Homo sapiens: one gene and its partner. The protein of the gene in region 1 purifies or fractionates together with the protein of each later gene. This does not show direct contact. Each region holds a gene or a part of one and is shown on either strand. Other genes may lie near its edges. The genes, in order: RRP36 and RRP12.

Evidence for each region.
Region 2: the proteins of RRP36 (region 1) and RRP12 fractionate together in Homo sapiens (co-fractionation; one large-scale study listed by BioGRID). This does not show direct contact.

What each region holds. Positions count from the first base shown.
Region 1 is NC_000006.12:43,027,046-43,030,099, forward strand, and holds the end of RRP36 (ribosomal RNA processing protein 36 homolog), read left to right. Parts: intron 1-84; exon of another isoform or gene 85-132; coding exon 133-207; intron 208-314; coding exon 315-432; intron 433-2,046; coding exon 2,047-2,183; 3' UTR 2,184-2,554; downstream 2,555-3,054. UniProt on the Homo sapiens protein: Involved in the early processing steps of the pre-rRNA in the maturation pathway leading to the 18S rRNA.
Region 2 is NC_000010.11:97,370,234-97,374,048, reverse strand, and holds part of RRP12 (RRP12-like protein), read left to right. Parts: intron 1-154; coding exon 155-219; intron 220-311; coding exon 312-474; intron 475-848; coding exon 849-1,003; intron 1,004-1,245; coding exon 1,246-1,313; intron 1,314-1,882; coding exon 1,883-1,976; intron 1,977-2,967; coding exon 2,968-3,126; intron 3,127-3,252; coding exon 3,253-3,333; intron 3,334-3,488; coding exon 3,489-3,594; intron 3,595-3,774; coding exon 3,775-3,815.

The DNA of each region.
Region 1 (3,054 bases):
AGAGCAAGACTGCATCTCAAAAAAAAATGTGTGTGTGTGTATGTGTGTGAACTTCTTAGGATAATGCTTTACATAAAATTTCAGCTAACATTTGCAGAATGCTAACCATGATACTCATTTTCCAATGTGGAGCTTGTGAAAAAACAGTTGAAGAAGCACCTTTCAGGAGAGGAGCATGAGAAACTGCAGCAACTGCTTCAGCGAATGGTGAGTGGGTAATAATTGTGGTGGGTAATGAAAGCAATTAAAGGTGGGAGATATTCACAGATCTGAACAGATCCCTCCCGTTCACCCATCTCATCTTTGCTCCTCAGGAGCAGCAAGAAATGGCACAGCAGGAACGAAAGCAACAGCAGGAGCTGCACCTGGCCCTGAAGCAAGAACGTCGGGCTCAGGCCCAGCAGGGCCATCGGCCATACTTCCTGAAAAAATGTGAGTTGGGCACAACTGTTGCTAACAGGGACAGGGGTGCAGGGGCCATGGTGGTAGAGTCTTGTGTTGGGGTGTCCCTGATCCCCTTTAAGGAAGGCATGAAGGCTGGATCCCATGGTAACTTGGAGGAAAGTAGAAATAGTAGGGAGTTGTTTGTAACCAGTCTTGTATCCCTAATTAGATCATGGCAGGCATTGTCACCTTTATTTCTTGGTCTACACTCCCCACTTCCCAACCCCCCCCCCCCAACACACACACAGTGAGTTTTATCTCTTGGTCTACACTACACACACACACACACACACACACACACACACACACAAACACAGAGTCAGTTTTATCTCTTGGTCTACACACACACACACACACAATCAGTTTTATCTCTTGGTCTATACTACACACACACACAGAGTTTTATCTCTTGGTCTACACACACACACACACAATCAGTTTTGTTTCTTGGTCTACACTGCACACACACACATGCACACACGCTGGGCCAGGCACATAGGTGTTCATAGTTGGTTGAATTGAGTAGTACTGAGATCATATAAAAAGTCATCAGTTGGGCTGGGCACGGTGGCTCACGCCTATAATCCCAGCACTATGGGAGGCCAGTGTGGGGGGGTCACGAGGTCAGGAGTTCGAGACCAGCCTGGGGGCCAACATGGTGAAACCCTGTCTCTACTAAAGATATAAAAAAATTAGCCGGGCCTGGTGGCGTGCACCTGTAATCCAGCTACTCAGGAGGCTGAGGCAGGAGGATCACTTGAGCCCGGGAGGTGGAGGTTGCAGAAAGCCTAGATTGCACTGTTGTACTCCAGCCTGGGCAACAGCGTGAGACTCCATCTCACAGGAAAAACAAACAAACAAAAAAAAGTCACCAGTTGGGCCGGGCGCAGTGCCTCACACCTGTAATCCCAGCACTTTGGGAGGCCAAGGAGGGCAGATCACGAGGTCAGGAGTTCAAGACCAGCCTGGCAAACATGGTGAAACCCCGTCTCTACTAAAAATACAAAAATTAGCTGGGTGTGGTGCTGTGCATCTGTAATCCCAGCTACTCAGAAGGCTGAGGCAGGAGAATCGCTTGAATCTGGGAGGCGGAGGTTGCAGTGAGCTGAAATCGTGCCACAGCACTTCAGCCTGGGTGACAGAGTGAGACTCCATCTCAAAAAAAAAAAGTCACCCGTTGGCCAGGCGCAGTGGCTCACGCCTGTAATCCCAGCACTTTGGGAGGCTGAGGAGAGCGGATCACCTGAGGTCAGGAGTTCGAGACCAGCCTGGCCAACATGGCGTAACCCTGTTTCTACTAAAAATACAAAAAAATTAGCCATATGTGGTGGTGCGCGCCTGTAATCCCAGCTACTCCGGAGGCTGAGGCAGGAGAATCACTTGAATCTAGAAGACGGAGGTTGCAGTGAGCCGAGATCGCGTCACTGCACTCCAGCCTGGGTAACAGAGCAGGACTCCGTCTCAGAAAAAAGATAGAGGGGCACCAGTGAGCTTTAAAGAACTCATGTATCCAGCATAATGGCTTGGAGTTACTGACCTGGTTTGGGAAAGAATAGGGGCTTCCTTCTTTGTTCACCAACTTTCATTCTCCCTGTCATTTAGCTGAGCAGCGCCAGTTGGCACTAGCTGAGAAGTTCAAGGAGCTGAAACGCAGCAAGAAATTGGAGAACTTCTTGAGTCGAAAGAGGCGACGAAATGCAGGCAAGGACAGGAGACATCTCCCTTTGAGCAAAGAGTAATAAGGAACTATCCTCTGCTCTGCCACTGCCCCAGGGAGACATGGATCTGTGAGGACAGATTTGGCCACGGCTGGTTTCCGTTCAAGGGCAAGGATCACAGCTGCCCTTGAATCTCATTGCCTCAGAGAAGACTAGAGGGCTCTTGGACTATCCCTAGGGCTACACAAGAATAGTTCAGCCTTCTGCCATGCCACACAGCCTCAGCTTGAATCTGGTTCATTGCGTCCTCGTGTTCTTCTCTCATCCTTGCCTTAAACCAGGGATTCTGATACCGAAGAAGAGGGGCCAATGAAAACCATGGAGTCTGTTCGTGACTCCCAGGGCTGGGACATTATGTAGGAGCCACTTCATAAACATTCTCTTTACTCATCTTTTTATTCTGTTTTTTGTGGCCTTCTTTTTGTGTTTCCCCCCCGAAACAGAGTCTCGCTCTGTCACCCAGGCTAGAGTACAGTGGTGCAATCTCGCCTCACTGCAACCTCCACCTCCCAGGTTCAAGTGATTCTTGTGCCTCAGCCTCCCGAGTAGCTGACATCCGCCACCAAGCCCAGCTAATTTCTTTCGTATTTTTAGTAGAGATAGAGTTTTGCCATGTTGGCTAGTTTGATCTTAAACTCTTGGCCTCAAGTGATCTGCCTGCCTCAGACTCCCAAAGTGCTGGGATTACAGGCGTTGAGCCACCGTTCCGGCCTTAAGGCCTCTGCTTTTATGTGGGATTTGTGGGTAGCCTAGAACTACTTTTTAGTGGGCCACATATTGGGATAGGCAATAAAGCCTAAGGCATCTACAACTGGGAAGTCAGATCAGAAACCCCTCCCACTTAAATCTGGGCCCCTCAAGGATGACAAGATCATTTAGTGGGTGAACCAAT
Region 2 (3,815 bases), on another chromosome or scaffold:
TTTTAGAATGAACAAGTATGATTTAATTCATGGAGATGGGGGGAAGTCACCCATATTCCTGTCCTCATCATTGGGCTTTTGGTTTGGTTTGGTAAATAAGGCTGTTGGCCAGGAGGGTGCTGGGCTCACACTCTGTCCCTCTGTCACACTGCAGCCATGGACCTGGCTCAGGCAGGCAGCACAGTGGAATCTAAGATCTACGACACACTCCAGTGGCAGGTAAGGGTCAGCTGGGGGAGGGCGTGGGGAGAAGCACACAGGGGCACAGGTGGCTGCGTGTCACCTTCCTTTATTGTCCCCTCCTTCTCCAGATGTGGACACTCCTGCCTGGGTTCTGCACAAGGCCTACAGATGTGGCCATCTCCTTCAAAGGGCTGGCACGGACGCTGGGCATGGCCATCAGCGAGCGTCCAGACCTGAGGGTCACCGTGTGCCAGGCCCTGCGCACCCTCATCACCAAGGGCTGCCAGGCAGGTACGTGTGGGCTGTGGGAGTGGGGGCTGGGGAGGATGACACAGGTCCCTGGCCCCATCCCCTGGCTTGCTACACTCCTTGCCAGGCAGAGCCACAGAAACTCACCTCTGGAGCTCATCCTTTGCTGCTTCTGCTGCAGACCCCAGGGGATAACTTTGCTGGCTCCCTGGGGTTGGAGCCATCGAGGACCATGGGCCACTGGGGCACCAGGCTCTCCATGCCCTGGCTCAGCTTCTGCCACAGAGAGCCCCAAACCCATGGATTCCAAGTCCTGCCAGCTCCCCCAAGAGAGGGCCTCTGGGCCACAGCCCCAGCAGCCACTGAGGCACAGTCAGCTCCTGTGCCTTTAGTGCAAACTTTGATCCTTTTACCAGAGGCTGACCGTGCTGAAGTGAGTCGCTTTGCCAAGAACTTTCTGCCGATCCTCTTCAACCTGTATGGGCAGCCCGTGGCAGCCGGGGACACTCCAGCCCCTCGCCGGGCTGTGCTGGAAACCATCAGAACTTACCTCACCATCACTGACACTCAGGTGAGCCACGGAAGGGAGGGAAGGAGGGAGGAGGGGAGCTCTCAGGTGGGCAGGGTCAGAGAGGCCGAGACCCTACCCACCAGGGCTCACGTGGGTCTCTGTGTTTTGGAGCACATACCAGCAGTCATGGCTTGGGCAGGGCTGGGGGCTGATGGGGAGGCCGCTCTGGGACTGCTGCCATTGCTGCTTTCTTTCGCTCCTCCCCAATGACTCTCTTCTCCTCATTCCCTCGGGGCCACAAGTTGGTGAACAGTCTCCTGGAAAAAGCCAGTGAGAAGGTGCTCGACCCTGCCAGCTCTGACTTTACCAGGTAACATGCTCAGGGCCTCCCACTTGAGCTGGAGCAGCCCAGGGAGCTGGAGGGTGCATCTGGCAGAAGCACTGTGGGTTCCCTCTTGCATTATTTAAGGAAGCCTTGAAGTATTAACTCTCCAGGCTGTGCTGAGAGGCTGTGCTGACTAGTTCCTTCTTCCTGGAGAGGCCATTTAGTCTGGTAGGGAGGAACAAGGACCCAGGAGATACACTGCCCAGGTTCTGATCCCAGCCCCGTCACTCATGGGCTGTGTGACCTTGGACAAATTACTTATCCATTCTGCCTCTAAGGCCTCATCTGTAAAATGGGCACGATAATAGTTCTTGCAACAAGGTTGCTATGAGGATTGAAGGAGTTAGCAGGTGTAAAACACCAGGAACGGTGACTGGTACATCATGAATGCTCAGTTAGGTACTAGCTATTATTATTGTTCATGAGCTCCTTCAAGCCCCTTGTCCTCACCCTGACTTCTCCCACCTCCCCATACCCAGTAGACGTAAGAACACTGGTAGTCTGCGCCCTTCTCCAGCTCCCCATCCCTCTCCTTGTCCTCCTGCCCCGAGCAGATTGTCTGTCCTGGACCTGGTCGTGGCCTTGGCTCCGTGTGCTGACGAAGCTGCCATCAGTAAGCTATACTCCACCATCCGGCCCTACCTAGAGGTGAGCCTCGGGGGCCAGGAGCGCCACACAGCCACGCTTGGGGGCAGATGGGCTGTGGGAAGGTGGGGCCTGTCTTCATGTCTTTGTCCCTTGCTGCTTCCCGAGATCAGGTCCCTGTCTGCTTTCTCCTGCAGTGGCTTCTCTTTGTGTCCTGTGTAGCCCATCTGTCTTGCAGGTCCCAAAGGGACTGAAATGCACAGCTGTGCTTAGGCCTTGCGTGCTGAGTGACTCTTGTAGAACCAAGGCCATGCTCCTTTGCCTGGCTCACTCCCCAGGCCCATCCCAGACCGGCCTGAGCTTTATCCCACCCAGTCCACTCTCTACTTCTGCTGCAGCCTCCTTCAGCTGCCTTAAGCCTCCCTGATATAACAGGCCCTGTCTGTGCCTTTGCAGGGTTTGGGTCCTCAGCTTGAAATGCCCTCTGCTGTGGCCAGCAACCCTGCAGATCTCAGCCCAGCAGTGACCCCCTGAAAGCTGCCCCCATTGCCACAGTTTAGTAGCAGTTACCTAACAGTGTGAGAAGTGCTCTGGGGCAGCACTGCAGGTGGACATGGAAATCCAGGGCCAGGCCACGTCACCTCAGGAAAGGTGTCCGGCGTTGGGGGTTGGGGGAGTGTGACAGAGAGCTGGTTTGGAGGAGCAAGGAGTTGTCAGTCTTGGAAGGAGAGAGAAGAGTGCTCCGGCTAGAAAGAGCAGCAGATGTGCAGGCCTTGGCGCGTGCCAGGCACCATGAGCTCAGGCCACTGGAGTGAGCACTGTCCAGAGCTGGGTGAGTGGAGTGGATTGGTGGGCCCCACGGCACACACCCCCAACCCCTGTGCCTCGCCCAGGAGTTAGCCACTCGCTGTCCACATTCCACTGGTCCTCTGTCAAGCCACATGAGCCCCCACGGACCCCTGCTCAGAATCCCTCCAGTGCTGGGGGATGCTCCGTGGATAGCATTGGACAGGGAGTGAGCCCCAGGCCTCCCTCACCGGTTCCTGTCTGCCAGAGCAAGGCCCACGGGGTGCAGAAGAAGGCCTACCGAGTGCTGGAGGAGGTGTGTGCCAGTCCTCAGGGCCCCGGGGCCCTCTTCGTGCAGAGCCACCTGGAGGACCTGAAGAAGACACTGCTGGACTCGCTGCGGAGCACCTCCTCACCCGCCAAGAGGGTGAGGGCTCTAGGGCCACCCGCTCTGCCGAGGGAGCCTGGGCAACACCAGGAAAGGAGCCACTGTTGAGGCTTGTTGGGTGGAGGTAGCATTGAGGGGTCCTGACTGGTAGCCCTTTGCCCACAGCCCCGTTTGAAGTGCCTCCTACACATCGTGAGGAAGCTCTCAGCTGAACACAAGGAGTTCATCACTGCCCTCATCCCAGAGGTGAGTGTGCGGGTGTGTTTTAGAGGGGGGTCCCTGGAATGTGGCTCTTAAGGGCCTCAGGATCCAGGGAGGGCAGTGATGGGAGTGGGAGGACTCGATTCGCTTCCCGGGCAGATGGCTCAGGGAGCAGATGCTGATGGAGTTGTCTTGGCCAGGTGATCCTGTGCACCAAGGAGGTGTCGGTGGGCGCACGGAAGAACGCTTTTGCACTGCTCGTGGAGATGGGCCATGCTTTCCTAAGGTTTGGCTCGAACCAGGAAGGTGAGGCCCAGGGGGCTGGGGGTGGACACTCTGCTCATAGACTGGGTGGGGGGAAGCACCCCTCAAAAAAGGTGGGGAGAGCTCTGTGCCCTGGCCCTGGGCAGGCTGCTCCTCTCTGGCCCTCAGCCCCCCTACCTGGTGGGTCCTTCCTGCTTGACCCACGTTGGTCTCTGTCCCCAGAGGCCCTGCAGTGCTACCTCGTCCTGATCTACCCTGGCCTG